Linked DNA regions of Homo sapiens. The protein of the gene in region 2 interacts with the protein of the main gene of each other region in a pairwise test. Each region holds a gene or a part of one and is shown on either strand. Other genes may lie near its edges. The genes, in order: QRICH1, NLK and NDOR1.

The links.
Region 1: the proteins of NLK (region 2) and QRICH1 interact in binary tests that used the Homo sapiens proteins (3 or more experiments, as listed by UniProt).
Region 3: the proteins of NLK (region 2) and NDOR1 interact in binary tests that used the Homo sapiens proteins (3 or more experiments, as listed by UniProt).

The regions. Positions count from the first base shown.
Region 1 is NC_000003.12:49,053,540-49,065,533, forward strand, and holds part of QRICH1 (transcriptional regulator QRICH1), read right to left. Parts: intron 4,352-11,994; coding exon 3,323-4,351; intron 1-3,322. UniProt on the Homo sapiens protein: Transcriptional regulator that acts as a mediator of the integrated stress response (ISR) through transcriptional control of protein homeostasis under conditions of ER stress.
Region 2 is NC_000017.11:28,042,761-28,054,233, forward strand, and holds part of NLK (serine/threonine-protein kinase NLK), read left to right. Parts: 5' UTR 1-113; coding exon 114-571; intron 572-577; exon of another isoform or gene 578-4,071; intron 4,072-5,156; exon of another isoform or gene 5,157-6,166; intron 6,167-11,473. UniProt on the Homo sapiens protein: Serine/threonine-protein kinase that regulates a number of transcription factors with key roles in cell fate determination. Positive effector of the non-canonical Wnt signaling pathway, acting downstream of WNT5A, MAP3K7/TAK1 and HIPK2.
Region 3 is NC_000009.12:137,210,706-137,219,861, reverse strand, and holds the end of NDOR1 (NADPH-dependent diflavin oxidoreductase 1), read right to left. Parts: intron 7,361-9,156; coding exon 7,263-7,360; intron 6,083-7,262; coding exon 5,984-6,082; intron 5,896-5,983; coding exon 5,794-5,895; intron 5,659-5,793; coding exon 5,449-5,658; intron 5,293-5,448; coding exon 5,171-5,292; intron 5,065-5,170; coding exon 4,844-5,064; intron 4,768-4,843; coding exon 4,660-4,767; intron 4,456-4,659; coding exon 4,341-4,455; intron 4,204-4,340; coding exon 4,057-4,203; intron 3,964-4,056; coding exon 3,845-3,963; intron 3,796-3,844; coding exon of another isoform or gene 3,769-3,795; coding exon 3,674-3,768; intron 3,591-3,673; coding exon 3,446-3,590; 3' UTR 1,866-3,445; coding exon of another isoform or gene 1,260-1,865; 3' UTR 501-1,259; downstream 1-500. Other genes in the region: ring finger protein-like, read right to left, coding at 1,260-1,865. UniProt on the Homo sapiens protein: NADPH-dependent reductase which is a central component of the cytosolic iron-sulfur (Fe-S) protein assembly (CIA) machinery.

The DNA.
Region 1 (11,994 bases), on a different chromosome or scaffold from region 2:
GCTGTAGGATAAAAACATACTTGCTGGTCTGAACTGGCTATAGGGGGGTCACTGCTGACCTTGACAAGAACAGATTTAGTCATGAGTTGAAGGGAAATTTTTACAGCATCTAGAGCCCAGCTTGTGTAGATAATGTTTCTTTAGAGTTCTGGCAATAAAGTAGAACAGAAAAATGGGGCCACAGATGGCGGTTGGTGTGAGGAAGTGAGATTTCACCATAAATCTGGTTTTAAAGACAGAAGATATGATAGCTTTCATAAAAGGTATGGCCCTCTCCAACCTGTGGCAGATGAAGGAACACATTTTGTCACTAGCTCCCCTTAGGGTTCAACTTGACTGTCTTCTGCATGTGCTGTAAAGTGGTCCAAGGGTAGAAAAGACTGTCTTATTCATCTCTATTCCCCAGCTCCTAGCACAGAGCCTGCATAAGAGGGGAGAGGGATGTTTGTGGTATATATAGACAAACTCATCTTTCCCTTGGCATCTTTCCCTTGGGATGGAAAATCGGGATTCTTCACAATTTTTCTATTTCTGGTAATAATAACTTCATGTAAATCACTCTAAGACTTTCCCAAATCAGATACAGCCTCTGAAGAACACTGGCCCACTAAAATGAACTCCAGAAAGGATCTTCTCCTGCTGAAGACCCAGACATGGAAATTATAAACAGAGACCACTAAGTACCAAATGAGGCACTGACCTGCAATTGGACCATCAGGCCCAGGAGAGCTAGGGGAGGCCTAATGGGCTCCATCTCTGTGAACAAAAGCTGAGCATAGAGACCTGTTACAAATCTACTGGCTAGTTTCTCCTATATGCAGTCAATTCTACACACATCTACTTGATTCCTCCTGTTACCACAAATCTAGGAAATTCCTGATTTCCTACCACAGATTAGATCAAACTCAGTTCTACTTTGGGAAGGCAACAACCCCACCCCCACCCCTCAATACTAACTCCATTCTCACAGTTCCCTTCTCAAGTTGCATTAGGGCATGTCCCTTCTGTCCATCCTTGGCTCTGTATTTATGCTGTTCCATTCTTTTGTTTATCTAAACTATAAACTACAGTTCAACAGTTCAAGGCAGGGTGCAGTGGCTCATGCCTGTAATCCCAACATTCTGGGAGGCCAAGGTGGGAGGATCACTTGAGGCCAGGAGTTCAAGAGCAGCCTGGGCAACACAGTGAGACCCTGTCTCTACAAATATATATATATGCCGAGTGTGGTAGTCTGTGCCTATAGTCCCAGCTACTTGGGAGGCTGAGGCGGGAGGATTTTATGAGCCCAGGAGTTAGAGGCTACAGTGAATTATGATCACTACCATACTCCTACCTGGGAAACAAAGCAACAACCTGTCTCAAAAATAAATAAACTACAGTTCAAACGTCATTTTGTCCACAAAGACCTCTGTTGACTTCTTAACCTAGAATTTCTAAATTCCCAGTTTGTCTTTGTGTATATGTCATAATTATTCTGCCTTATAAATAATTCGAAGGAAAAGAAATCCTGAGTTCTTACTTTTCACAACTAGACTCTAAGCTATATGAAGCAAAAAACCTTCTCTTATTCTATTTCTAGGCCCAACAGCTAGATATTTAGCAGGTCCTTAACAATGTCACCTAGGATAATATGATACTGCCTCTATGAAACCACCTGGTCAACCTTTGCTTAATTAATCACTTACAGCCCATGTTTCCAAGTGCAGTCCCTTATCTAACTTGTTTGTACCAGCTCCCACAAACATATGCATGCTCAGGAGCCTATGCCCACCGAGGCATAGCACCTTCATCAGTCCCATAAGACCAGAGGCCCTATATCCCACTCTAACGGGACCAGATATTTTACCAATCAGTTCTTTTAGACAGGGTCTCACTCTGTTCTCTAGGCTGAAATGCAATGGCATGATCATAGTAGCCTCAACCTCCCAGGCTCATGCAACCCTCGCATCTACGCTGGGACCACAGGTATGTGCCATCACACTAGACTATATTTTTTAAATTTTTGTAGAGATAGGGTCTTCCTATATTGCCCAGGCTGATCTCAAACTCCTGGGCTCAAGCATTCCTCCCACCTCAGCCTCCCAGACTGCTGGGATTACAGGCAACTGCCACTGCACCCAGCACTAATAGTTTTTTTGTTTGTTTGTTTTGAGACAAAGTCTTGCTATGTTGCCCCAGGTTGGAGTGCAGTGGCACGATCTCAGCTCACTGCAACCTCTGCTTCCCAGGTTCAAGCAATTCTCCTGCTTCAGCCTCCTGAGTAGGATTACCTGGGATTATAGGTGTGTGCCACCACACCCGGCTAATTTTTGTATTTTTAGTAGAGACGGGGTTTCACCATGTTGGCCAAGCTGATCTCAAACTCCTGACCTCTGGTGACTCACCCGCCTTGGCCTCCCAAAGTACTGGGGTAACATGCATGAGCCACCGTGCCTGGCCCCTACTTTTTTCTTTTGACAGAGTTTTGCTCCTGTTGTCCAGGCTGGAATGCAATGGCGCAATCTCAGCTCACTGCAACCTCTGCCTCCTGGGTTCAAGTGATTCTCCTGCCTCAGCCTCCCGAGTAGCTGGGATTACAGGTACCTGCCACCATGCCCAGCTAATTTTTGTATTTTTAGTAGAGACGTGGTTTCATCATATTGGCCAGGCTGGTCTCAAACTCCTGACCTTGTGATCCGCCTGCCTCGGCCTCCCAAAGTGCTGGGATTACAGAAGTGCACCACCTCGCCCGGCCGCCCCCGTAACACAAAAACTCTTGGGAGGTCCCACCACATAGACGGCATATTCAAGCCTCCCAATGGTGATCACTTTTAACAGGCTCCTTATGAGTTATTTTAGCTTTTCTAATTCACCCACACTGTGTGCCCAAAGATGAAAAACAGAATGAACAATCTCACAGCCTCTCCAGTGATGAGTTTGTAATCTATGTGATAAACTACAAGTGTTTTGCTAAAACCATTTACTTATGATACAAGGAAACAGCACTGGGACACACTTGAGGTGTCCCATTCATCTACACCTGTAACTTTACTCTTCCTGAGAAGAGATTACAAAGAAGTGTCCATGGTACTTAAACCCAAAATGTCTCCAAAACTCCAAAGCAATTCCTGGCCATCTCATTTACCTCCAGGTACCAGGATAAACTCTTTTTTCTGTTGCATAGCCTCACGTGATGTTTCTCCCCCTCTTCTCCCAAATACTAAATACTGCATCACTGTAAGAGTAACAGCAGTAAATAAGCCAGAGGTTGCGAGGCAAGCTCTGTGCTGCACTGGGCCCTGAGGGACCAGGCTGCCTGCCCTACTGATAAGTCTTCACTTACTGAACAAGTAACTTGGAGTTGCTGCTGCTGCTGCTGTGGTGGTGGTGTCTGTTCCTGGGGAGTTTGCTGCTGCGGCTGCTGTTGGGGGTCCCATATATGGACAGTTTGAGCCGTATTCTGGTACGTGCCTGCCACAGCCTGCACAGCCACTGGAATGTGGATGTTGCCATTCATGAACTGTGCTGGAAAGAGAGAGTTTGCAAGGGTCTGCACTACCTCTTCATGGGAGTTTTTCACTACAGATGTGGTGCCCACCATCTTCTCCTTGTCATCCTCCAGCTTAACAGCTGCCAGGGCTGTGGGTGAGCCACTGACGTGAACTGCGTTGTAGGCTTCCTGGGGAATGGCAATGTGGGTAATGCTCTGCTGCTGAGGGTCCCCCCGGGGCTGGGCAGAATAAACAGGGATGGTCCAGGTTTCTCCTGTAGGGCTAGTAATGGTCCCAGTGGCACTGTACAGGTGGGCACTGTCTACTGTCAGTAAGTCTGGCCTCAAAGACACATAACTCTGCTGCTGGCCCTGTGGAATGGCCAGCACGGTGGCCACCGGCTGCCCTGAGATGGCGTAGGACACAGTGATGGGCATGTCCACTTTGCGCTTCTTCACTGGTTGGAGGACACTGGCCGTGCCAACCCGCCGCTCCCCTTCCCGGGGTGAGCCCTGCTGGGATGGTGGTGGGGAAAGGGCACCCACGGTCTGGATTTGGATCTGCTGACCACCAGCAAGAGACTGGCCAGCCACCAGCTGAGCCTGGATTTGCTGATGTGGGATGTGCTCCTCCGGGATTTCTGCAGCCTGGATCTGCTGGGCTGCTTGCACGTGCTGCACCTGGATCTGAGCTGCTTGCAGCTGCGAGGGACTGGGACTCTGCAGAGACGGGGTCTGAATGGAGGGGGCTGCTGACTGTGGTGCCTGGCCTTGGATCTGCACCTGGACCTGGATGGGTTGCTCAGTAGGCTGGTGAACGGTGAGTTGTGGGGAGAGCTGAGCCGAGACCTGTTGCGGAGACTGCTGTACCTGCACCTGGACCTGTAAGCAACAAGATTCATCAGTGAGTGAACCAGGCAGCACTGAAAATCCAGTACCCAAGGAAAGAAAGAAAAGAGATCCCAGACAGGGGACCTGCAAAATGTGAGAAAACACTGGCATACTCAAGGCTTCTGAGAAGGACACAATACGTAAGACTAGATCCAGGATTGTCCAGCAGCACATTACAATAACAGGGACATATATCCACCCCAGAGAGCAAGCAAGACAATTAACTGGGGCCTAAAAAGGAAATACCAAAAAAAAAAATTTTTTTTTTTTAAGATGGACTCGCTCTGTCGCCCAGGCTGGAATGCAGTGGCGCAATCTCAGCTCACTGCAACCTCCGCCTGCTGGGATCAAGCGATTCTCCTGCCTCAGCTTCCTAGAGTAGCTGGGATTACAGACATGCTGGAGTCTAACAAGGAAATATCAAAACTTTGGTTCTTTTTTTTTTTCCCCAAATTCTCATTGTGTCGCCCAGGCTGGAATGCAGTGGTGCCATCTCAGCTCACTGCAATCTCCACCTCTCAGGCTCAAGCAATTCTTGAAGCCAGCCTCCCGAGTATCTGGGATTATAGACATGTGCCACCATACCCAGCTAATTTTTGTATTTTTAGTAGAGACGAGGTTTCACCATGTTGGCCAAGCTAATCTTGAACTCCTGACCTCAACTGGTCCACCCACCTCGGCCTCCCAAAGTGCTGGGATTACAGGTGTGAGCCGAAACGGCCGGCATTTTTATTTCCATTTTCTTTGAGGCGGAGTTTTGCTCTTGTTGCCCAGGCTGGAGTGCAGTGGCATGATCTTGGCTCACTGCAACCTCAACCTCCTGGGTTCAAGCAATTCTCTTGCCTCAGCCTCCTGAGTAGCTAGGATTACAGGAATGCATCACCATGCCCAGCTGATTTTGCATTTTTAGTAGAGACAGGATTTCTCCATGTTGGTCAGGCTGGTCTCGAACTCCCGACCTCAAGTGATCCGCCCACCTTGGCCTCCAAAACTGTTGAGATTACAGGCGTGAGCCACCACGGCCAGCATTTTAAAAATTGTTTTTGAAATGGAGTTTCACTCTTTTTTTTTTTTTTTTTTGAGACGGAGTCTCGCTTTGTCGCCCAGGCTGGAGTGCAGTGGTGCCATCTCAGCTCACTGCAAGCTCCGCCTCCCGGGTTCACGCCATTCTCCTGCCTCAGCCTCCCGGGTAGCTGGGACTACAGGTGCCTGCCACCACACCCGGCTAATTTTTTTTTTGTATTTTTAGTAGAGATGGAATTTCACCATGTTAGCCAGGATGGTCTCCATCTCCTGACCTCGTGATCCGCCCGCCTTGGCCTCCCAAAGTGCTGGGATTACAGGCGTGAGCCATCACAAGGGACCGTTTTTTTCTCTAAAGATAGGGTCTTGCTCTGTTGCCCAGGTTAGAGTACCGTGATAAGATGATAGGGCACTTTAAACTTCAAACTCCTCAAGTGATCCTCCCACCTCAGCCTGCTAAATAGCTAGAACTACAGGAACACCACCACCACACCCAGCTAATTTTTTTTTTTTTTTTTTAGACAGAGTCTCGCTGTTACCAGGCTGGAGTGCAGTAGTATGATCTCAGCTCACTGCAACCTCCGCCTCCTGGGTTCAAGCTATTCTCCTGCCTCAGCCTCCTGAGTAGCTGGGACTACAGACGCATGCCACCACCCCCAGCTAATTTCTGTATTTTTAGTAGAGACGAGGTTTCACCATGTTGGTTGGCCAGGATGGTCTCGATCTCTTGACCTTGTGATCCGCTCACCTTGGCCTCCCAAAGTGCTGGGATTACAGGCTTGAGCCACCATGCCTAGCCTTATTTATTTATTTTCTGAGATGGAGTTTCGCTCGTTCCCCAGGCTGGAGTGATATGGTAGTCACGGCTCACCGTAACCTCTGCATCCCGGATTCAAGCTATTCTCCTGCCTTAGCCTCCCAAGTAGCTGGGATTACATGTGCCTGCCATCACATCCAGCTAACTTTTTTTTTTTTTTTTTGAGACGGAGTCTCGCTCTATCGCCCAGGCTAGAGTGCAGTGGTGCGATCTCGGCTCACTACAACCTCCACTTCCCCGGTTCAAGCGATTCTCCTGTGTCAGCCTCCCGAGTAGCTGGGACTACAGGTGCGTGCCACCACGCCCGGCTGATTTTTTTATTTTTAGTAGAGACAGGGTTTCACCGTGTTAGCCAGGATGGTCTTGATCTCCTGACCTCATGATCCGCCCACCTCGGCCTCCCAAAGTGCTGGGATTACAGGCGTGAGCCACCACGCCCAGACCTAATTTATATATACATATATATGTTTTTGAGACCAAGTCTCGCTCTGTCGCCCAGGCTGGAGTGCAGTGGTGTGATCTCAGCTCACTGCAAGCTCCGCCTCCCAGGTTCATGCCATTCTCCTGCCTCAGCCTCCCAAGTAGCTGGGACCACAGGCACCCGCCACCACGACTGGCTAATTTTTTGTATTGTTATTAGAGACAGGGTTTCACCGTGTTAGCCAGGATGGTCTTGATCTCCTGACCTCGTGATCTGCCTGCCTTGGCCTCCCAAAGTGCTGGGATTACAGGTGTGAGCCACCACACCCAGCCCTAATTTTTGTATTTTTAGTAGAGACGGGGTTTCACCATGTTGGCCAGGCTGGTCCAAAACTCCTGACCTCAGGTGATCCACCAGCCTTGGCCTCCCAAAGTGCTGGGATTATAGGCGTGAGCCACCATACCCAGCCCCCAGCCTGATTTTTTGGGCAGAAGTCCCCAACCCTGGGGCCAAGGACTAGTACTGGTCCGTAGGCGAACGACACAGCACAGAGGTGAGCATTACCACCTGAGCTCCACCTCCTGTCAGATCAATGGTGGCATTAGACTCTTGTAGGAGCACAAACCCTATCGTGAACTGCAAATGTGAGGTATCTAGGCTGCATGCTCCTTATTAGAATCTAATGCCTGGCCAGGTGCATTGGCTCACACCTGTAATCCCAGTACTTTGGGAGGCTGAGGAGGGCAGATCACTTGAGGCCAGGAGTTCAAGACCAGCCTGGCCAACATGGTGAAACCCCACCTCTACTTCTACTAAAAATATAAAAAATTATCCAGGCATGGTGGTGCATGCCTGTAATCCCAATTACCTGAGAGGCTGAGGCAGAATAGCTTGAACCCAGGAGGCGGAAGTTGAAGTGAGCAGAGAGAGCACCACTGCATCACAGCCTGGGTGACAGAGTGAGCCTCCATCTTAAAAAAAAAAAAAAAAAAAAAAAAAAAAAAAAATCTAACACCTAATGATGTGAGGTGAAACAGTTTCATCCCAAAGCACCACCCCCATCAATGTCTGTGGAAAACTGTCTTCCACAAAACGAGTCCCTGGTGCAAAAAACGTTGGGGACCACTGCTTTAGAGTGCTTACTTAACATATGTTTAATGGGAAAGGCATTTAAATAAACAGAATCCCAATAATTTAATCTGAGCAATATTACCATAACCTGGATGACATGTTTCTGATAACAATACAGTTACTGTCTTATTATTATGTCAGCATGCAAAAGAGCATGAAAAGAAAAAAATACATAGTATGCAACTTTTAAAAAACAGCTTTTACCATCAGACACATAGATAAATTACCCTAACCACAAGTAGGAATTAGAAAGGTAGAAAACAAGAAGGCAGAAAATGAGGCCAGGCACAGTTGCTCATGCCTGTAATCCCAGCTCTGTGGGAGGCCAAGGTGGGTGGATCACCTGAGGTCAGGAGTTTGAGACCAGCCTGACCGACATGGTGAAACCCCGTCTCTACTAAAAATACAAAACTAGCCAGGCATGGTGGTGCATGCCTGTAATCCCAGCTACTTGGGAGGTTGAGGCAGGTGAACTACTAAACCCAGGAGGTGGGGGTTGCAGTGAGCCGAGATTGCACCACTGCACCACAGCATGGGCAACAAGAGTGAAACTATCTCCCAAAAAAAAGAATATATGCAAATGGCCAAGAACCACATAAAAAGTTGCTCCATATCATACTAGCTGTGAAGGAAATTCCAATCAAAGCCACAATGAGAAACCACTTTATATCTAATAAGTTATATCTAAAAAAGACAGATAACAAGTATAGGTAAGGATATAGACAACTTGAAACTGCTGGTGGGCATGTTAAATTGGTGTAGTTGGCCAGATGCGGTGGCTCACACCTGTAATCCCAGCACTTTGGGAGGCTGAGGCCAGTGGACACAAGGTCAGGAGTTCCAGACCAGCCTGGCCAACATGGTGAAACCCTGTCTCTACTAAAAATACAAAAATTAGCTGGGCGTGGTTACACATGCTTGTAATCCCAGCTACTCGGAAGGCTGACGCAGCAAAATTGCCTGAACCTGGGAGGTGGAAGCTAGTGAGCCGAGATGGCGCCACTATACCCAGCCCAGTCAAGGACAGAGTGAGACTCCATCTCAGAAAAAAAAAAAAACAAGAAAAAATTGGTGTAGTCGCTTTTTTTTTTTTTTTTGGGAGGTAAAGTCTTGCCCTGTTGCCCAGTGGTGGAATCTCAGCTTACTGCAACCTCCGCCTCCCTGGTTCAAACAATTCTCCTGCCTCAGCCTCCTGAGTAGCTAGGATTACAGGCACGCATCACCATGCCCAGCTAAATTTTGCATTTTTAGCACAGACAGGGTTTCACCATGTTAGCCAGGCTGGTCTCAAACTCTTAACCTCAAGTGATCCACCTGCCTTGGCCTCCCAAAGTGCTGGGATTACATGTGTGAGCCAGTGTGCCTGAATTATACATTTCAAATGGGTAACTTATATCTCAATAAAGCTGTTACTAAGTATATTTTTTAAAAAAAGGCCGGGCGCTGTGGCTCACACCTGTAATCCCAGCACTTTGGGAGGCCGAGGCAGGCGGATCATGAGGTCAGGAGATCAAGACCATCCTGGCTAACATGGTGAAACCCCATTTCTATTAAAATAATTAGCCAGGCGTGGTGACGGGTGCCTGTAGTCCCAGCTACTCGGGAGGCTGAGACAGGAGAATGGCGTGAACCTGGGAGGCGGAGTTTGCAGTGAGCCAAGATCGCGCCACTGCACTCCAGCCTGGGTGACAGAACGAGACTCCGTCTCAAAAAAAAAAAAGGCTCAGGTTTTGAGATCACAGACTTCAATGTGAATTGATGCTGCACTTTTCTGCCTGTGAATCCATGGGGAAATTTAACCTCTAAACAGTTTCTTTAGGTACAGTAAGTATAAAAGGGGAGAATGTCTACTTCCCTACAGTGTTTTAAACATAAAATAATATTTAGTTACAGATAATAGGTGTTCAAATAAGTAGGTTTATTATTTCTCTCCATGAAGTAAAATATTATTTCCTTGCACCAGTGGTTCTCAAAATGTAGTTTCCATGCCAACAGCAGCAGCAGCATCCAGGCACTCAGAAATACAAATTGTCAGGTACCACTCCAGACCTACTAACTCTGAAATTCTAAGAAGTGGTTTTATCAAGTCCTCCAGTGTAATTACATGGTCAAATTTAAGAACTAGGGCTATATGCCAAAGACATAAGAGGAAACTATGTAGCCAATTACTGCAGAACAGCAGTTTTCAAGATTTCTTAGTCAAAGCCTGAATTTGGGGCTGGGCATCGTGGTCATGCCTGTAATCCCAGCACTTTGGGAGGCCAAGGCAGGAAAACTGCTTGAGCCCAGGAGTTCGAGATCAACCTGGGCAACATAGTGACACCCCTATCTCTACAAAAAATTTTAAAAATTACCTGGGCGTGGACACACACCTGTAGTCTCAGCTACCTGGGAGGCTGAGGAAGGAAGACTACTTGAGCCCAGGAGATTGAGGCTGCAGTGAACTATGAACGGCACGTGCCACTGTACTCCAGCTTGGACAACAAAGTGAAACTCTAACACCAAAAAACTTGAATTTGGCCAAAAAATATTGAAGACCCAAAAGAACTTGTTTACATAGGTTATATCTAGTAATATTTACTTGTACTCTAAATTAAAACTAGGAATTTAATTTTTTAATTCTTTTTTTATTTGAGATGGAGTTTCACTCTGTTGCCCTGGCTGGAGTGCAATGGTGCCATCTCAGCTCACCGCAACCTCTGCCTCCCGGGTTCAAGCGATTCTCTTGCCTCAGCCTCCTGAGTGGCTGGGATTACAGGCATGCGCCACCATGCCTGGCTGGTTTTCTTTTGTTGTTGTTTTTTGTTTTTTATATTTTTAGTAGAGATGGAGTTTCTCCATGTTGGTCAGGCTGGTCTCAAACTCCCAACCTCAGGTGATCCGCCTGCCTCGGCCTCCCAAAGTGCTGGGATTATAGGCGTGAGCCACCATGGCTGGCCCTAATTTTTTTTTTTTTTTTTTTTTTTTGGAGACAAGAGTCTCAGTCTATCGCCCAGGCTGGAGTGCAGTGGTGTGATCTTGGAAGTACAACTTTGTCTTCCCGGGTTCAAGCGATTCTCTTAACCTCTGCCTCCCGAGTAGCTGGGATTATAGGTGCCCACCACCATGCCTGGCTGTTTTTTTGTTTGTTTTTGTATTTTTAGTAGAGATGGGGTTGCCCCATGTTGGCCAACCTGGTCTTGAACTCATATCCTCAAGCAATCCACCTACCGCATCCTCCCAAAGTGCTGAGATTACAGGCATGAGCCACCACGCCTGGCCCAAAACTAGGAATTTAAAAAATTGTAAACCATGCTGGGCGCAGTGGCTCACACCTGTAATCCCAGCACTTTGGGAGGCCAAGGTGGGTGGATCACAAGGTCAGGAGATCGAGACCATCCTGGCTAACACGGTGAAACCCCGTCTATACTAAAACAAAAAAAATTAATTAAAAATCAGATAAAGCCAGATGCAGTGGCTCATGCGTATAATCTCAGCACTTTGGGAGGCCAAGGCAGGCAGGGTCACATAAGGTCAGGAGTTCGAGACCCGCCTGGACAAGATGGTGAAACCCTGTCTGTCCTAAAAATACAAAAACTAGCCAGGTGTGGTGGTGCATGCCTGTAATCCCAGCTAATCAGGAGGCTGAGACAGGAGAACAGCCTGAACCCAGGAGGCAGAGGTTGCAGTGAGCGGAGATCGTGTCACTCATGCCAGCCTGGGGGACAGAGCAAGAGTTGTTCTAGAAAAAAACAAACAAAAATAAAGCCATTATATGTTAACATAAATAACATATTCTCATGAAAAATAACTATTTGCCAAAATAATTATAATAAGAATTGCATTGTTTTACATTTTTGGAAACCTCTTTTTTTTTTTTTTGGAGATGGAGTCTCACTCTGTTGCCCAGGCTGGAGTACAGTGAGGCAATCTTGGCTCACTCAGCTCAATGCAACCTTTGCCTCCTGGGTTCAAGCAATTCTCCTGCCTCAGCCTCCCAAGTAGCTGGGATAACAGGGGCATGCCACCATGTCCGGCTAATTTTTGTATTTTTAGTAGAGACAGGTTTTTGCCATGTTGGCCAGGCTGTTCTCGAACGCCTGACCTCAAAGTGATCTGCCCACCTCGGCATCCCAAAGTGTTAGGATTACAGGCGTAAGCCACTGCGCCTGACCCATTTTTGCAAACCTATTTAATGGCTGACTTAATATAAGGTAGCTGAATTCTCCTATCTGCTTCCGCACTCAATCTGTTGTGCTATTA
Region 2 (11,473 bases):
AGACATAAAGCTCTATGTTTTTTGAGGTGGAGTGAGTGGTTTTTCTTCATTTTTAAATGGCCAAATGACAGCTTGACCCAGTTTGCTTTCCAATCAAAGGGCATTTATTTTGAATGTCTCTTTGTGGCGCAAGAGCCAACGCAAAAATGATGGCGGCTTACAATGGCGGTACATCTGCAGCAGCAGCAGGTCACCACCACCACCATCACCACCACCTTCCACACCTCCCTCCTCCTCACCTGCACCACCACCACCACCCTCAACACCATCTTCATCCGGGGTCGGCTGCCGCTGTACACCCTGTACAGCAGCACACCTCTTCGGCAGCTGCGGCAGCCGCAGCAGCGGCTGCAGCTGCAGCCATGTTAAACCCTGGGCAACAACAGCCATATTTCCCATCACCGGCACCGGGGCAGGCTCCTGGACCAGCTGCAGCAGCCCCAGCTCAGGTACAGGCTGCCGCAGCTGCTACAGTTAAGGCGCACCATCATCAGCACTCGCATCATCCACAGCAGCAGCTGGATATTGAGCCGGATAGACCTATTGGATATGGAGCCTTTGGTGTTGTCTGGTGAGTATCCAAAGAAAAACACAACCTCTCATGGTTTCTTCTGTTGGTTGTCATTGGATGAGTCCATCTCTAATGGTTGTCTCCATGTTGACCAAGGTGCAGCAAGCTTCTCAACCCAACTGTAGGAAGCCACCCTCACTTATGTGGTAAAGAGGCCTAATGCATTGGCTGTCTAGGCTCATGGCAAGTTTTGGTGGAGCGCCTTCTCATGAGCAACACACATAAGTGTGCTGTCTACCAAACTTTTCTATTAGAACCTAAGCAAGCCACTGAACACAGGATCAGTAGATGAATGTATGCAATACTAATTCCTACGAAGACCTTGGTCATCTCGTGTGTTTGATTCAGTGGCCCTGTGGCATTAAGTGTTAGCACCTGATCCAGACTGAATTCCTTTATAATACTCTTGTCATTAGGATATACTTTGCATAACTACTTTCCTGTCCTTTCTGTCTTTTCACTTATTTTGTGATCTTGATCTCCAGAAGAAAGATAGGATTCATAGTTGAACCAGTTAAGATCATTGCTTGAGTGGTTTATTTTAAACCATAAAGCTACAGTTGAGAAGTATGTAGCTGTAGCCTTTTGATAAGAATGCATTAAATATAGCATCACACATGAGTACCACAAATGAGGTTAGTAGACTAGCTATGCAGTGGCCCACATTCAGTGTAATGTTTTAGTGTCATTTAGTGCCTCTTAAGTTGCTGTTATCTGTTGGTCAGTTGCTGTAGTAGGAAATAATACTTTTTTAACAAATGACCCTACCTTTGCTAGTGCTAGGATATTTGTAAAAGCCTAAGGGCTTCTTAAATATAACATTTTGGTCTATTTGGTCTAACCTTAGAAAGATTAGTAGTTTATAATAAAATATGTTTGTTCCTATCAAAACTAGAATGAACTGGGTTTTCTCCCAAGGACTAATGATTCCACTTTGGATAGATGAATTGATATTTTCAGTGCATTCAAAAATTGTTACTCCCGAGAAAAGCGCCCATTACCACAGGAAAATGAACTCTTTGGAACTAGCCCGGTAAATATCTCCTTTCGTCATTGTTTTTGAGGCTAAAATTGATGGGTGCATTGTTTATGCATTTTAACTGGCCATCTTATTTATATTTCAGATTTGATAATCTAGGCTGCTAAGTGATCTCATCCATTTTTTAAAAAAACTAGTAGAGTCCAGTGTTTTCTCAGCTAGTCCCCAAGGAAGTTTCTGCTGCAGCGTGGTCCTTTCTTCAAGGTGTGTGGGATTCAAGGTGGAAAAGAGTATAGCTGGTAATGGTGCCTTGGTCATTCTGCTCAGGGACCTGCCTGTTCCTGCCTTCCTCTCTTCCCTTCCACAGACTATCTCAGAGATTTAACTGTGAACTTATCCTTGCCTAACTCTTGAGGATTTCCAAGCTTTGGTTGGGGGATGGAACAGACAGGAAAACGGTTGTTCCTTGGTTTAAATTTTGTCATTGATTTACTAATAACTTTTAGCACTTGTTTGGATCTTCTTAGATCTGGATGCTTACTTTCTTTTTTAGTGCCTTACATACAATGCTAAAAACTAGGGATACTGAAAGGGAAATGGGTTGCAGCATTCTTGAATATATTCAAAAGGCATTTTTCACTTACATTTCTATCAAAAAGTGATGTGACTTGTAGCAGTTTTTATTTTATTTATTTATTTTTTTAAGGAAGGGGGCAATAAAGAACTGGAGTGCTGAAACATCTCACACAGCAAACGTTCTGCTAGTGGGTACTATGAATCTTTGATATCTGAAAGCCCACATATATTTGGTTTGAAGCCATTCTAGAGGTTTTTAATTGATTGACTGCTCTACCACCTATGGAGTTTGTCTCATGTACTTAAAGTACACCTCTGTGCACCATCTTACTTCAGGTTTGTCTTGTGTCACTGACTACATTCGTAAGCCCCTTGAGGGTAAGGATTGTCTACTGTAGTAATCCTTTTCTCCTCAGCGCCTAGCACAGTGCTTTGGCATCTTTGCTGCTTGGTTAATTGATCTAGTCAGGTCCTTCTTTGTTTTGGCTTAAACAACAGAAAATTATTTCTCACAGTTCTGGAGGCTAGAAATCCAATATCAAGGTACAGGTTTGGTTTCTTTTGAGGCCCCTCTGCTTGGCTTGTGGATGGCCGTCCTCCTGTGTTATCACGTGATTCGGGTCTTTGTTTTTTTAACCAAGTTTTTCTAGTTAACTGCATTGAGTGTTTTCATCAGCTGTTACAGGTGAAATACAATTTGGTATGAAAAAGGAAAGAGTTCCAGGTGTATGTTTTAGTATGCAAATGCTTTTCTATTTTTATATTTACATGTCAATGACTTGCTGTCTGAATTCCTTATTATATTTGAAATTTAACTGTTGTATGACCTAAGTAAGACTGTTTAGAGATTTGAAAACCAAACTACCGGGAATTGCACTAATATTCTGAAACCCAAGGTAAAGATATTAGTGAGGTTTTTTACTTTTTAACTGAAACAGAATGTATCTTTTTAATTTAGGAAGCACCTTATGAATTGGAAACAACTTTTTTCTAAAATGATTATAATGGAACATAAAAATGTTCTCCCAGTGATGCATCCTTTGATTGAAACCGCCATGTAACTAACTACCGGGGTATTATAAGATTCACTTAATTCAAACATATATTCATTTAATGCACTTTGCAAGTATTCTTCTGGAATAGCATATGACAAGAAACTGTATTTGCCCACATTTCCTTGGGGACATACACCCAGGGGTACTAACTGATGGCTAAAAAAGTGGCATGCAATTTTGAGAGAGATTGTTGTTTCTCCATGTAGACAAGGAGAGATATTTGTAGAAGTGATGCAGCATTTTACCAGATTTATCACTGAACAATTTAGTCTAGCTGACTTGATTTATCTTTCTGTTGAATTTAACTAGTGGAATAACTTATCAGTATTGGACAGTTGTGTAAAAGTAGTGAATTACTCATTAGCTTGCTGGTAAGGATGGTGCTGTGACAGTTCAATTAAGGTTTCATTAACAACTGTCTGCTGTATTTTATCTCAAAGTAAGAGTTCCAGTTTACCTGGTAATGTGATTGTGGGATAACCTGAGATAACATTTGTTGCCACTGATAGAATGTTGTTTATGGGTTATCAAGATATCATATACAATTTGACCTTCTTTTTGAGACATTACAGCCTCCAAACACCCACATGGACATTTTCATAATGCAAAAACAAAACACAAAGCAACCCACAAATAGTAACTTCAGTCATTTGGTGAGTAATATAAATCTACCTTTTTGTCTGCAGTTCACATTTGCCAGAGGAAAATGCTGTGGTTAAAGATGTAACAACTTTGGGACAAAGAGTTTCAGGGGCTCATAATTTTGAGAGATGGAGGAAGTTGACCGCATGAGAGTGGTTTGAGGATCGCTGTGCCTAGACCGTTTTTGACATTGGCAACTTAACATATCAGAGATGGAATTAATGGCACATATTGCCACCTTGGTAAAAGTGAGTCTGGGAAAAGACTTTTTTATAAAATTAGCATTTTGGTTTGTGACTTGCCTGATTAATTAAAAGATCAAAAATCCTGGGATTCACTTGCTCTGTTGCCTTTGTGTACTCCAAGTAATGTTGGAGGTCTTTGAATTTTATTATTCTAATAACTTCAGCAGGTTACTTTTATCTGTCTTTCAAAACTGTAGTGATAGTTACTAGCTCTGTGATCTCGATAAATTATTTGACTTCTCTGTTCCTCATCTATAAAATGGGGATAATAATAGTACTTATCTCAGGATTGATGTGAAGATTAAGTGAGGTAATTCTTGTAAACCAATGATTACACTGTCTAGCACACAGTAAGCATCAATAAATGTTAGTTGTTTTTATTGTAGTTATTGTTGGTAGAAAAATCAAGCTGTTGTGTTAATGTGCATGGAAGTGTCTTCATAGATTGTCAGATTTATCAGGTGAAATCAGCATGCAGACTATTTTTGGAGGCATGACTCTAAATAACGTAGCGTGTCCCCTCAGTTGTACTGTATGTCAGGGAGATTTGAAAATGGTTGAATTTAAAGCCAAGGGGAAAATACTCTGTGCTGTCCTGTCAACTAATTAAAAACAAATAAAAATAATACACATTTGTATGGACTTTGTAGGTGTTTTAGTCAGATCATCTGCACTGTTTTAGAAAGTATTATGGATTTATATACTGGGAAATTAATTTTTTCTTTTCAGAATGTAACAAATGAAAGACATCCTTATTGTCGAAGTAGAGATTCACTTTGCTTATGTTTGGATGAAAAAGTGTGAATTGCTAAAGATCCCAGTGAGGTGGGAGAAATATAGTGATTTAACAAAAAAATTACTCAGTATAAGCCCTTGTGCATGGTAGAGATTGTCTAGCTTGCTCATCTTGTGAACATGAGAGGCATCTTTTTTTCTTATGTTTTGTCTGGTCCTCTTACTCCACATAACAAACTAATTTGGAAAAATGCAGAATGCTTTTGGGATATGTTTGGGGAAAATCCTGGAGTAAGTTGCATCAGAAAGAGTAGTATACTAAAGGGTATTTTGTTATTAACTGTGTTTTACAGGTTGAGAATCTGTAGTACTGAGAAGTTTCTCCACTATCAGCCGAGATTAACAGCCACAGCTGGATTCTTTGGGGGCTCTGCTTTGTGAAAAGAGCTTTGAAGAAGCAGAGCCTGCACCATAAAAAGGAAACGGTTGCTCTTCTAGACATAACAAAGCATCCGTATGAAACTAGAAATGTGGAAATCTGTATTGTTAATTTTAACTACAAACGAACTTACTTTTGGAAATTACAGGTTCATGATCATAAAGTAGATAAAGAGTAGAGAATAAAAGTAACAATCTGATGATTCTGCACCCACTTCTTGGTGGTTGAAACTCCATAGCCTATAACGTTGCAAGTCATTTTGTACTTAGACTCCTGAAAAGATTATCCAAATTATGTTCAAAAAACCACAGCACAAAAAATAAACTTGTTTTATTCTTGGGGAGAAATTTCATGTTATACTGTCCAATATTAATTTAGAAAAAAAGACAGTTTTTTTTTTTAAGGCATTTCAGAAACATTGCCCTTTCAAGCAAGTTAGAACAATATCCCTCAACATTAAATACCATCTTTTTAGCCATCAGTACCACTGGGCATGTGTCATAAAAGAGAAATGGGGGCAGATATAGCTCCCTTTCATATGCTATACCAGAACAAAAATTTGTAAAATGCATAAGTGCATTAACTGAATATGTTTGAATTTAAATTCTGGGTTTTTACCTTCAAAGCACAGGCAGCTGTAGATACAAAAAGTCCTCTAATGGAGTACTGGAATGTTTCATTGTCTTCACAACTTGGAGTGTCAGAGTTTTCTCTGCCTTCTATATTGTAAAACTGAGTGACTATTCTTGGTCGTTTTTATTAGATTTATTGATGTCCAAGCAATACAAGAATTAACTGTTCATATACTGTATGTTTCCTTAACATGCTTATTTGGTTTCTTTGATGGAGATTGTCAAGGCCAAAGAAACTTTTTCATTTGTCATCCAACCAATAAATGGACAGAAGCTGTTAGAAGCTCTTTAATTATGCGTCTCTTTGGGTTTTAATTCTGAGTCCCTGTGCCTCTGTGCTACTCCAGTGAATTATTTGTTGATTGGGCCATCTAATACAGGTCAACAATAACTAAAATAGCTTGTCAGTGTGATCCTGATATTGCTTGGAAGTAACAGAGTGTCTGAGGCAACAGTTGTAACACTGTCAGTGAGCACATAACAAGTCATGATAGACATAGTCAGTAGTTGTAAGGTACCTAGTGCAGAAACAGAAAAAACTGGTACTCTGGCATTATGGAAAGATGACTTCTAAGTGAACTCTACTGAGATTGAACTTTAACTCTTAGTTGTAATGGTGTGAGTAGAGGGAGTATATATGGGGATGTCTGCCACTCATAATGATTGGTGCTCTTTACCTAAACCCAGTTTTGAAATAATTTGGCTAATTGAGTCATATCTACTATGAGGCAGTGAAAGTTTTTAACACCTTTGGAACTCACTAGTCTATATATTTTTATTGTCACTTCGCTGTGGACCAGCACTTTTGCAAGCACCAAATGGGGATATTTAGTCTTATAAATAATTTTGCGAACCTCTATTAAGCTGCTGCTGCTGTTGTCTGTATTGTGCTTAGTACTGAGGTATAGGGATGTTTAAGTCACCATATTGCTTTGGAGGAGTTGACAGTCAAGTAAACAATATGAACAATGAAACATGCCTACTCTCAGGGTGTCCTCAGCCTTGGTGGAGAGGTGAAACTAAATTTGAAACCATTAAATAAAAACTTAAGAATATATTATTTTCAGGCCAGGCATGGTGTCTCACGCCTGTAATCCCAGCACTTTGGGAGGCCGAGGAGCGGTTCACCTGAGGTCAGGAGTTCAAGACCCTCCTGACCAACATGGTGAAATCCCGTCTCTACTAAAAATGCAAAATTAGCTAGGTGTGGTGGCACATGCCTATAATCCCAGCTACTTGGGAGGCTGAGGCAGGATAATCACTTGAACGCAGGAGGCAGAGGTTGCAGTGAGCCAAGATCGTGCCGTTTCACTCCAGCCTGGACAACAAGAGTGAAACTGTGTCTCAAAAAATATATATATTATTTTCACTTGTTCTTACAATATTCAATTATTGTATGTTACTATTTGCCAGGCACTGTGCTGGAGATAAGGATTAAAGGTGATTATGACCTACTGGGTGAAATAGATTTGTAAATGGATTATTATAATTCATTGCCATAAATGCAGCAATAGAGATAGTCCCTGGACATTAAGGGCGTGTAGAGGAGGGATTTCTATGGAAGGTCAGGATGCTTCCTAAAATAGGTAATTCTTCAATGAGTTTTAAGAATGAGAGTCAACCAATGGGGAAGGGCAGTCTAGGTGGAAGGGCCTATATGCAGGAGACTACAGGGCTGGAGATGCTGAATGTGCAGTGCAGTGGGTGGTAGGAAGTGTAAGCTAGAGCTCAATCATGAAGAGGTTGGAATGTCATGCTTGAGGCACTAAAAACAGCTTTTTATTAATAAAGCATATGTGGACATATAGCACATAAACAGTTAAATAGCATATCTGTGGTATTAAGATTTTACGAGGGGATGATTAGGAAAATAGCCTAAAAAGGCTCCGTAGGCGGGCAATGATGAGAAAAGGTTAAAACTGCGAATGGCAACTACTGAAAGTTTTTAAGTAAGAGAGACTTCGTCAGATTTAATTTTTTTTTTTGGATATGTAAAATAGAAGAGTAGAGAGAACTGAGATCTGTCTGAGTCTTAGGGAATGTTCTCAGTTGTAGGTGGAAGAAGCTACTGGAAGCAGAACTAAAGGGCAGTTAGGAAAATGTGTTCACAATGATTGACAATCTAAGTATGGCAGAAGATTGTTAGGAAAATGGGAGTGATCTTTGGTGCTGATAAAAAGTCAAAGAAGGCCGGCCATGGTGGTTCACACCTGTAAACCCAGCACTTTGGGTAGCTGAGGTGGGCATATCACTTCAGCCCAAGAGTTCGAGACCAGCCTGGACAACATAGTGAAATCTCATCTCCACTAAAAGTACAGAAAAAAAAAATTAGCCTGGTGTGGTGGCACGCACCTGTAGTCCCAGCTACTCAGGAGTCTGAGGTTGCAGTGAGCTGATATCACACCACTGCACTCCAGCCCGGGCGACAGAGTCAGAACCTGTCTCAAAAAAAAAAAAAAAAAAGTCAGAAAATTAAGATGGAGAAAAGGCCAAAAGGCCATTGTATTTAGCCTGATAGTAAATAGATCATTGATGGCATTTGAGAGAGTGATTGTGTTTGATTGATTCTAAAGAATGTCTTAAGTATTCAGTATTACTTTTTACAATTTTTTAAAATTATTAATACAATTCTTCCAAATCTCATTTGTTTGTTTGTTTGTTTGTTTGTTTGTTTTTAGTTTAATAAACCAGAGAACTTGATGTTCAAGGTGCCATTTCCTTGGGAAGGATTTTTTTTTTTTTTTGAGACAGAGTCTTCCGCTGTCACCAGGCTGGAGTGCAGTGGCATGATCTTGGCTCATGCAGCCTCCACCTCCCAGGTTCAAGGGATTCTCCTGCCTCAGCCTCCCGAGTAGCTGGGATTACAGGCACGTGGCACCACACCCGCCTAATTTTTGTATTTTTAGTAGAGACGGGGTTTCACCATGTTGGCCAGGATGGTCTCGATCTCTTGACCTCGTGATCGGCCTGCCTCGGCCTCCCAAAGTGCTGGGATTACAGTTGTGAGCCACTGCGCCCGGCTTTTTTTTTTTTTTTAAACAATGGGGTAATAGATTACTAAACTAAACTTGTTAGGAGACAAGGTTCTGGTCCTAGCCTTGCTGCCAACAACCCTGTGACCTTGGTAAAGTTATTTAAACTTTCTGAGCCTTGGTTTTCTCATTTATAAAATCCTGTGTTTCCTAAGATTCTATTATAAAATGATATTAATATTTGTTGGAGTTTGCTGGTGACCACAAGACAACTTTCTCTCTTCAGGACTACAGTGTTGAATAGCTTCTAAAATTGTTTAAAGGAGGAATGAGATAAATGTCACCCTGTTCCAGAGTGGTGACTTTTATAGAGTTTTCTAATTTGGGATTAGATTTTAAATGTTCATTTTTTTTTCATCAAGAGACTTGTTTTCTTCTATTACTGAGTTATTGGTAAGGATTATACATGTAGTTCAGCTGTGGAGAAGAGCAGGCCTGTTTGCAAATGAGCAATTTCTTCTACATGTCCATTTGATACTACTATTTTCCTGATAATATTTACCTTTTTAGTGTTTTAGACTTTAAAAACTTGCTTAGTTTCTTATAAGTCTTACAATAGTTTTCTTACAATATTTTGAGTGATTTTTAAATTTTTAAATAAAATTTAATGTTCAGTATTTTGTCATCTTTTGTGTGTGAGTAATCAGGTAAGATGATTTGGGAGCCAGTGCTTACATTAATTTGCAAGTTTCTTTAAAACAAATTTCTTTCCAGGAGTCTCTTTTAAATTCTGAATTTGGATAAGAGAGTTACTAGTTTGCATGTGGGCCTCCCAGAAAATGAGCTTTGACACAGCTTTCAGGCTGTAGTAGTTTAGGGCTTACAGTGCCCAAAGAGGGAGAGTGACTTCCTAAAGCTCTTGTCCAAGAGGAAGGGAGCATTTTTGCAGACACCCTCAGCAAACCAGCAGTGCTATCCAGTAAATACATAGTGAAAGTATGCAATCTTAAATTTTCTAGTAGCCACAGTAAAAAACTGAAAAGAAACAGGTGACATTAATTTTAGTAATGTATTTTAACTCTATATCCAAAATATTGTCATTTCAACATGTATTCACTATAAAAATTATTAATGATCTATATTACTTTTTTTTCATACTGAGTCTGCAAAATCACTATGTATCTTCATGCTTAGAATATGTCTCAGTTTGGTCTAACCACATTTTAAGTGTTCTGTAGCCACACATGGCTACTGACCAGCACCAGCATATTGATCTCTGGTGTTTTTTTTTTTTTTTTTTTGAGACAGTCTTGCTCTGTCACCACACCTGGCTATTTTTTTTATTTTTTTGTGGAGATGGGGTCTCACTTTGTTGCCCAGGCTAGTCTCAAACTCCTGGGCTCAAGCAGTTTGCCCACCTTGACCTCCCAAAGTGCTGGGATTACAGGCCTGAGCCACCGCACCTGGCCTCTCTTTGGCTTTTGTTGGATTACATACTCATTTCTGAACCAGTCACTGTCAATGAAGGTAAGATTACTTTTGGAGCAATCAGATCCACTTCTGGACCTGGAGATGGAGTCAGTTTTAAATGGGAGGGATGAATACCAGCAGTAAATGCCAGGAATGCAGTCATTAATGACCAAGATACTGCATTTGTCTGACTTGTGTCAGACTCAGAAGAACTTGAGTGGGTATATTTATGGAACAAACTGGAATAATGATCTCTATAGAGAAGTCCTGTCTGTCCTGAGTTATTTGGAGGCATTTTTCCTTTTCTTTTCTGAAGCTTTGTTTGCCTAAAGTAGCAGAAGGTAAATTTGGTACCTGATCGTTGCCATGTTTGCTTTCCTTCCCAGTTAGAGCAGATATCTCCTATTGATTTCTCTTTTTATCCTCTCCGTATTGTGGTTTTGTTATCTGGATAAGGTTCTCAGTCTTGTTTTCAATTTAAGTAGTATAGAGCTCAGTAGTGTCAGGCAGCAGACTTCTTACAGGGGAATGGACAACACAGAAACTTTTTGTTTATCCATTCTTTGACCTAAAATTCTTGCTCTGAGCTACAGAAAAAAGGTGAAAAGAGACATTTGAACAAATAGATAAAATTAGTCATTTGACCCAGATTGCAGCTTTTCTTCCTGTCTGCATGGATAAAAATGATCCGTCAATTTACATAAGCAGGTGATTTTTCTTACATGCTAATTTTCTTAATGTACCATGGCAGAGAGTTGCAGATTTGCAAATTGTGTAAGTTAATTGAAATAAGCCAGGTGACTTTATTTCACTGTATTATCTTACCAGTACAAAAGTACCCAAAGGGTACAATTATCAGGTGATTGTCTCATTGCACATCTAAATTAACATGCAGCCTGGTGCAGAGGGTTTTTCCCCACTTTCTTCTCCACTTCCCTCTCTTTTCTAATTTTTTAAAATAGGAAACTTGATTTCTATATTTACTTCAATAGAGCTGGAAATTTAGTAATACAGATGCGGAGGAAATTTGAGCTTTATTAAAAGTAATCCAGAAGCTATAAAAATTGGCAAGTAATGTGGTTATTGTGCAGAAGAAGGGGCTTGGTTTGGGTTTGAATTGCCTCAGAGAATTATGTGAGCATCTTCAACCATGTTTA
Region 3 (9,156 bases), on a different chromosome or scaffold from region 2:
CCAGGGTTGTGTGGGAGTAGCCTTTGGGCATGTGCAGGAGTTAGGGACAAAGACTGGCTGAAATGGTGGTAGGGGAATAAGGACCCAGCGCCTCCTGTCTGGCACCTGGACCACTTGGGTGGGAGGAAGAGCCCGCCCCAGGCTGGGTGCGGTGTCTCACGCCTGTAATCCCAGCACTTTGGGAGGCCAAGGCGGATGGATCACCTGAGGTCAGGAGTTCAAAACCAGGCTGGCCAACGTGGTGAAACCTCTTCTCTACTAAAAATACAAAAAAAATTATCCAGGTGTGGTGGTGCATGTCTGTAATCCCAGCTATTCAGGAGGGTGAGGCAAAAGAATTGCTTGAACTCGGGAGGTGGAGGTTGCAGTGAGCAGAGATCGTGCCACTGCACTCTAGCCTGAGTGACTAAGTGACGCTCTGTCTCAAAAAAAAAAAAAAAAAAAAAAAGCCCGCCCAGATGGTGAAGATGGGGTAACAAAGACAAGTAGTAACAATGGCATCCCCAGGAGCTGGTTTATTGAAAGCTGCTTCACGTTCCAGGATCAGTCCTCCATCTCTCGCTGGGCCACCTGATGTCTCCATCCCAGGTGTGGTGACATGAGGGTGTGCAGGGGCAGAGCTTATGTTCCAAGGCCTGGGTGGGCCCTTGTCCCCTGCAACACAGGCCAGCGCCAACCCCCACCTGGTCTGGGCCTGATCAAGTGGGGAGAGGAGCCTTTGCAGGCTGAATTTTCGCAGCATGGACCCCTCCCCCGGCTGGCCTGACCTTCAGGGACACACACTGGCCCTTATCTGAACACAGGGTGGGCGGAGTCCCTGCCCTCTCCAAGGAACTGACTCACTGCTGTATCTCTGTTTGCTTTCATGCCTGCTGTGCTCAGCTGGCCCTCGGAGGGGAAGTGTGGCCGGCGTCAGCCCGTGGCCAGTACGGTGCCCGTCTGCCGCAGGGTGAATGGGGTCCTGCTCACAGACTTTCCTGCTGGGCTGGCCTCCTCCAGGAGCTGTCCTTGGGCGCTGGTGTCCTTGGGTTCAGCTAGTGTCTGGGCAGCAGTGCAGCCATGGACTCTGGCAGGGTCAGGCCTCTGGGTAGCCCTGGTTGTGGGTTCAGCAATGGGAGGTCTTGATTGAAGGCCACTGCCCTGGACCCAACCTTGGGTTTTTCCAGCCTGGTCATCAGGCCTCACAGCACCCAGGCATGGGGACGTGGGCCAGTCTGGGCCCCCTGGCCTGTTGGCGGCGGGGCTGTCCTGGGCTCTGCTCAGCGGCCAGAGCGGTCCAGGAGCACGAAGAGCAGTCCCAGCAGCAGGAGCGGCGTGAAGACCAGCAGCAGCCCCAGAAGCTCAAGGGCCAGCAGGCTCAGCAGCGCCAGGCGGCGGGCACAGGGTCCCCGCTCCCGCAGGGTCCAGAGCCGGGCACCCAGGCAGGGTGGACAGGGCAGGAAGGGCAGGCAGCCCCGGCCGCCCACGGGCCCTGCCAGGAAGCGCAGCTGGTAGCGGTGCTCCAGGGAGCCCCAGGGCCCAGGGTTGCGGTGATAGGATGCAGGGGCCTCTCGGCGGGGCTGGCGTGAGGGCCCGTCGGCCTGTAGCAGCTCCTCCTGTAGCCGGCAGATCTCCCATTCCAGCACGGGCGTCTTCTGGCGGCACAGCGGGCAGCGCACCCGGCCCAGGTCGGCACTGGAGGCCGAGCCCAGCAGCCTGTGCAGGCAGCCCACACACAGGCCGTGGCTACAGTTCAGCAGGGCCAGGCGGCGCTCTCTGGGCCCGTAGGGCTCTGTGCAGATCGGGCACTCCTCCTCTTCCCCCTGCCCTGCTGCCTGCTCTCTCCCCTCCTCCTTCCAGGTTGGAAGGGCCCAGGCACCCTCCATGGCTTTGGCCCCCAGCAGGGGCTCACTGGCTGTAGTCTCAGCACCTTGGGGGTGCCCAAGGTCATCCCCTTTGCTTGCTGGTGCTTGGCACAGAGGGTCCAGGCACTCAGGGCCCAGAGAGGACCCAGGTGGACTGACAGGCCCAGAGCTGGAGTCGGCCAGGTGGAGGGTGGGGGCCCCAGGGCACAGTTCAGGGGTGGTGGCCCTGGGGCAGGAGTCAGGATAGGAGGACAGGGACCCCAGGGCGGCGACAGGGGCGGCCCTCAGGGAAGGCAGGGTCTGGGCTCCACCAGAGCTCTGGCACTGACCTCCCGGCTGGCTCTCCTCACTGGAAGTGGACTTGACTGGGGCCCCAGCAAGGCCTGCCTGCTCTGGGTGGATCCTGGGCCCACGCGGTGCTGTCCCCAGCCAGATCTGGCTGGAGCCCAGCCTCAGCCATGTTTAGTCCTGTGCCAGCGACCCGCCGACGACAGATCAAGACTCCAAGACAGCGAGGCGGGTGTGAACAGCCACCGAACTCCTCCAACAGGACTTTCCTTCCCAGTGCCTAAAGCCCCTCCCGGGGGTGGGGCTGCACAACCACGCCCCCTCCTGCCGCTCCTCTTTCCGGCAGTCTCGGCTCCCTAGCGGCACGGACGGCTTGGTTCCGCCTTCCCAGCACCTGCCCAGAACGCAGTCCTGGCGATCAGATCTTAGCCGACCCACTATGCCCTTAAGAACGAGGCAGTCAGGGCGCACATCCCATTAGAGGCAGACATAAGAGCTGCAGAGGCCACTCGGGCACAGGCAGCCCAACAAGGGTGCACCGTGGCGCCCACCCATCCAGCACCCAGCACCCAGGGCACCGGGAGGAGCTAGAGGACGCCCACCCATCCAGCACCCAGCACCCAGGGCACCGGGAGGAGCTAGAGGACGCCCATCCATCCAGCACCCAGCACCCAGGGCACCGGGAGGAGCTAGAGGAAGGAAGGAAGCCTGCGCTAGAAGTAACCACCCAGAGGCCACCATTTACTGCAAGGGTTTTTCTGGGACCAGGAGAGGAAGAGGCTGCTCTGGCCTGGGACACCCCCACTGCTCTCAAGGAGCTGGCATCTCAGTGGCCTCTGAGCCCAGCCTGAGCCCTGTGGGAGTGCGGGGGCAGTGACTGGAATGTGCTGCTGGGCAGGCTGCAGCAGCCGAGGTGGCCCCAGGGCAGAGGAGTGCAGCGCAGCCTCATGGGTGCCCTATGCCACCCCTGGTGCTCACTGGGCTGCTGATGCCGTCCTGGGTCACTGCACCGGTGAGGTGGAGCGGCCCAGGCCACCACCTTGACTGGGAAGGGGGTGGGGGGACGAGGACACAGCTCACTGTCAGGGTGGGGGAGCGCAGGGCTGGCTGGGCAGAGGCTGCAGTGGGGTCAGGCTCAAAGGGTGGGATCCAGGGTCAACAGGAGTGCGGCTGTGCTCGGGAGCTGGCTGTTCCCAGAGGACCAGCTGGCTGGTCCGAGAGGATGACGGCTGCTGGCCAGGAGCTCCCTCGTGGATGCCTTCCTGGGCTCCCAGGAGGATGGCTGTCAGAGGGGGCACGGGCAGCCGCGGGCCTCAGGCCCACGTCTCTGTCTGGAAGCGCCGTGTCTGCTGGAGCCTGGCTAGATACGCGGCTGCGTCCGGGCTGCAGAGTCCACCCTCCTCCTGGAAGATGGACATCAGGGCTTCCGAGACGTCCGCTGGCATGGACTTGGCGTTGCTAGAGGGGCAGGTCGCAGAAGGCGCAATGAGGCCTGGCACTCAGGGGCTGGGCCCACTCCTGCTGCACGCAGGCCAGCTCACCCTGCCAGGTAGAAGTATGCACCCTGGCGGTCCAGCAGTTCCCACACAAGCGACCCCAGCTCCCGGAGCCGGTGCTGCACATATACTTTCTGCTCCTGTAGGGCAGAGAACAGGGCTGGGGGCTGAGCCGGAGCTCCCTCCCCTCCTTTCCCAGCCCCTGAGCATACACACCTGTTCCCGGGAGAAGGCAGGGATGAGGGTCAGACAGTCCCGCTTCTCCAGCTCCTGCCACTCAGCCTCCCAGTAGAAGTCTTGGTCCCGCCAGCGGCAGCCAAAAAACAAGAAGTTTCCTAGGGAAATACAGGGTGCTCTTGGCCACAGGTCCTTGAGGTTCAGCTGGGGAGCCCTGGCAACAACCCTGCCCGGAGACCCTGGGTGCTCACCAGTCTGGCCCTGGGCCACACGCTCCTGGATGGCTGCTCGGAAGGGGGCTACCCCAGTGCCAGGCCCCACCATGATCACAGGTGTGTCTGGTGTCTCTGGGAAGGCCAGACTCCCAGGCCGCACCCAGAGGGGCACCCGGACAGGTCCTATTGCAGGAAGGAGGTGGCATGAAGAGGATCAAAGACCTGTGCTGAGTCTGCTGGGGCCCTAGCCCAGCATTTGCATGAGCATGGGAGAGAAGGGGATATGGGCCCACGGCCCCCACCCTGGGAGCAGGGGTCACCTTGCCCAGGGTCCAGGGATGCCAGCCAGGAGGAGCAGAGGCCCCGGCGGGGCTCCTTGAGGCGAGTCTGGAACTGCACTACAGCCACGAGGATCTGCAGCCGTGAGGGGTGAGTCTGGGGAGGACGGCGGGGTGGGGGTGGTGGAACAAGGCTGCCCTCACCTGTGCCTGGGCCGTGGGCCCCACCTACCTCCCGCAGAGGCAGTCCGACTGGGGGAACGTCACCTGGTCAGAGGGCAGCCCCTGCTTACAAAACCCCACAGCCCCGGTCCCAGCTTTCCCAGGGCCGGTCCTGGGCTCCAACCACCAGGCCCCTCACCAGCAGCGAGGAGGCGATGGAGAAGGCCCTCGGCCGGATAACGGGGATGAGGTCCAACAGGTAGTCGGGAGGGATGGCGGCAGCTGTGTGCGGGAAGTCACAGAGCACCTAGGCAAAGAGAGTCTCAGGGTGGCTGCAGCGTGGCTGTAGCTCAGGGGCTGGGCCTGCCGCCCTCCCATCTCACCTCCAGGATGGTCCTGCGGGGCCGGTTGCAGTATTCAAAGAGCTCCTCCTGGCCTTGGGCAGAACTGAACTCCAGCAGCTTCTCCCGCTCCAGCTCATGGAGGGATAGACAGGCCAGGAGTTCGAAGAAGGAGCGGCGAGGCACGCTGGCGATGTCCAGGTAGTGGGACACGAGGTGCCGCATGGAGCAGGGCTGGGGCAGCCTCGTGGGGGAGGAGACATCTGCAGGGTGAGTGGGAGGCCTCCGTGGGCTGCGGCGGAGCCCTTGGGGTGGGGGCCCAGGGCACGGGAGAGGGCAGAGAGTCAGGGTGGCCGAGGCTGGGCTCACCTGGCTCCCGCGGCTGCAGCATGAAGAGCTGGTCAGGGTCCAGGCCCAGCACCTGGCAGAACCGCTGGACATGGGCAGCCGAGTTGGAGGGCTGAATCAGCACCACATCACCAGCAGCAAAGCTGTGTGGAAGAAGCCACCAGGGCTGTGGGGACGCCGCAGGGAGGATGTCGGGGCCCCGGATAGAAGTCATCCCCTGCAGCCCGGCCCAGCCTCCTCCGAACCCCAGACCCACGGCCCACCTCACCTTGCCCTCCTCGGTCCCCAGCAGTCCCCACCTGATGCCAGAGCCCAAGATGTCAAACTCAATCAGCCGAACGTCCTGGAAGTGGGAGGGGCCGGTGACTCTCTGGTTGGAGATCATGGGTGCTAGGAAGGGCTTCGACTCTGACGGGGGCTCCTGAGAGCCGGGGTGAGCTACCCGCTGCCCCTCAGAGCCCGTGCTGGGTGCCTCTTGGAGGAACAGCAGGGTGAACTTGGAGGGCAGGCTGTGGGAGGGCACGCTGGTCAGACCAGGACCCACTCCCCAGGGGCCGCCCACCCACACGGGAGGGACCCAGGGCGAGGTCCCCAGGCCAGGTTGGGTCTGCTGCGCCTGTGGGTGACCCGGGGCCCACACTCACGGGACTCCGGGAGGGATCTCAGTGAGGCCCGGAGGCGGCGGGTACAGCCCCAGAACCCTGTCCCACAAGTCTCGCAGCCAGGGGTCCACAGCAGCGTCGGGCCTGGGAGGGAGCACGTGCGCTGGCCTGAGCGGACCCTGCGTGTGGCCAGACCAGACTGTGGAGGCGGGTACCACGCCCGCAGACTCACCCCAGCTCATGCTGGTCATCGCCCAGGCACACGGGCAGGAGGGCGCTGCCCCCAAGCTGCAGTAGCCGTCGGTGCAGCTTCTTGGCCACGAAGTTGAACCTGTGGAGACAGTGAGGCTGGTCCTGGGCTGGAGCCCGGGCGGAGAGTGGTGCCCAGGCAGAGTGGAACCCGGGAGAGTGGAGCCCGGGCGAAGAGTGGAGCCTGGGGAGGGCCTCCCTCGGGTGGAAAACACACTCCACGCTGGCCGCACCCTAGGAGGGGGCAGGGCCTCCACACGCCAGGGGCTGCCGAGACCAGGGCAGCTGCCAGGGTGCCAAGCAGCAGGTCCTCTGCTCGCAGAGAATGAGCCTGTGTGGGTGGGAGCAGGCGGCCTCGTCCCACTGATGGGCCCTCATCCCTGGGCAGGGACTTGAGGCAGCTGAGGCCTCCAGGCCCCCAGCCAAGATGTGGGTCACTCCTCAGCTGAGAAACTCTGTGCTGGGGAGAGAGCCAGGCATCTTCCCGGGGGTCAGTTTCTCTTCTCACTCTGGTTCCGAGGCATGACTGGCTCTGGGTCACGCTCCTCCCTGGGAACGCTGTCGGCAGCGGCCTCCCTCCCTCTCTTGAACGAACACTGTGTCCCACACAGAACAACGTCACGCAGGAAACAACGTCATGCACGGACCTACGTCACGCACGGAACAAAACCTCCCGGCAGAACCGGGGGGAGCTGTCTCCGATCTTCCCGTTCTTTTTCATCTGAAATGACTGACACCTGGCTATGCAAACGGCTTTTGATGCTCGGTGCTCAGCGGACCTGGGCCCTACGTGGACAGTCGGGGTTTTCACCGTTGTGGGGTCTAAAGATGCCATTTGCACACTGAACATGCCACTCCTTGCTTAGGGTGCAGAGGAGCACTGTGAAAATGCCCAGGAGAAAAGGCAGAGGTGGCCTCTGGGGTGGCAGGAGCATACGGGGTCCTCCTCCAGGCTCAAAGTCGTCAACACTTCACAGCACGCCTTTTTGTAAAAGTGGGGACCGGCGCCAGGTAGGCCTGTGTGACGTCAGCGTGGCTGGAGCCCAGCCCTTTGCCACCCTGCCTGCTCCCCTCTGTGCCCTCCCCGCAGCGTGAAGCCTGGGGTGCCCACCAGGGAGCGTTGTGGAGAAGCCAGTACCACTGCGAGGGCCCTGAGGCGCGCAGGGGCCGACCCTGGAAGCTGGTCTCGGTCCTCTGCCAGCACACCTGTTGCTCGACCCCCAGAACTGTTCCGTCCGCCCACTGTCCCATCCCCTACTCACTTGGCGTATGAGGAGTCCCCGAGGCCCAGGACGGCAAAGTCCATCTGACAGAGGGCAGTGGAGGGCAGGTTCTTCCGGAATATAAACCTCCAGAAGTTCTACAGCCGGAGGAAACTCTGAGTCAGAGTCCTCGACCTCTAGGCTAGCCCCACAGCAGGGGGTGAGGGGAGGGTCTCAGGGGAACAGGCAGGTGGGTAGGATGGGGGCAGAATACAACTGGACCTATCTGACCAAAAGGCAGGGCCCAGGTCCAGCCTGCAGGATGATGGGCACCGGGAGGAGGCAGGGCTGGTCCAGCGTCTAGGGAGACCAGGTCCCACCCTGCCCACAGGAGCCAGACCCTGCTGTGCTCTACAGGCCTGCGTGGAGCTTCCTTCCTGGGACATCACCCTCCTCTGCCCCAGGCTCTGAGCTGCCAGGAGCAGCTCTGCACTTGGTCTCCAAACTGTCCACCGCCCCAGGGGTCCCTCACCTCCACCTGTCATTTCCCAGCCAGAGCGTGGGCCTCCACTCCCTGAGTTGGTCTGTCCCAGAGGCTCCTATACTCAGACCTCTGAGGTCCATCCCAAGGGCTCTCACACTCGGCCCTCTGAGGTTCCAGTGTCGCTGAGACACATCCCCCTCCTTCCGTGGCTGCAGGACCTCGAGCCAACAGGGTCCAGATCCTCTGGTTCCACACCGTGCCTTCCACGGTGTCCTCCCAGCTTGATCAGAGGCCCCCCCAAGGAACCTACTGCCCCCTCCCTACCTGGATCCCAGGTGGCCTGTGTGCGTGGTCTTCGCCGCCCACCCACCTCCCCTTCCCGTGGCCAAGCATGGAGGCTAGCAGACAGGGAGGCCCTGGCCTTGTCAGCCCACAGCTCTGACCCTGGCCCTGGACCACCCCTGGCCTCCCGGGACCTCACTGCCTCATCAGCTGCCTCTCTGGGCCACGCTATGCGAGCAAATGTACCCAGCCTCTTGCCCCCGAGACCCTCCCTAGCGCCCTGCTGTTGAGACACCCTTGCTTCCTGAATCCCAAAAGACTCTCTTCCCTGCTCCGTTTGGTGAACTTCCTCCTTCCCGAGAAAAGGGTTCTGGAGAGAACATTCTTGTGACTTTTCCCTCACTCGACTGGCATGCGGCTGGGTCTGTCCTGGGCTTGGCACCACCACTGAAAAGCCAGGGCCCCACTTGCTGCCCTTGGGGTGTGTAGGGCACTCTGTCCCCAGAGGCTAAACCCACAGTGACATGCCCCGGGGGTAGCCCTTTCATTCTCAGCAGGGCCCTTCCTGGGCATGGGGCTCTCTGGCCGCAGACCCCGCTCTAGACATCATTACTTTCCTGGATAACTTCCTCTCCACCATTGTCTTCTCATTCTGAGGCCACTGGAATTATCTTCGAATTTTGGTATCTGCTTCCTTCCATTTTCTATCTTGCTTTTTGTCATACTTTCTAGAAGGATTTCTCATCTTTTTTTGAGATGGAGTCTCACTCTGTAGCCCAGGCTGGAGTGCAATGGTGCGACCTCAGCTCACCGCAACCTCCGCCTCCCAGGTTCAAGTGATTCTCCTGCCTCAGCCTCCCAAGTAGCTGGGATTACAGGTGCGTGCCACCATGCCCGGCTAATTTTTGTATTTTTAGTAGAGACAGGGTTTCACCATGTTGGCCAAGCTGGTCTCGAACTCCTAACCTCAAGTGACCCACCCACCTCGGCCTCCCAAAGTGTTGGTATTACAGGCGTGAGCCGTCGTGCCCGGCCTTTTTTGTTGTTGAGACAGGGTCTCATTCTGTCATCCAAGCTGGAATGCAGTCTTGAAATCACAGCTCACTGCAGCCTTGACCTTCTGGGCTCAAGCGATCCTCCAACCTCAGCCTCCCAAGTAGTGGGGATTACAGGTGTGTGTCACCACGC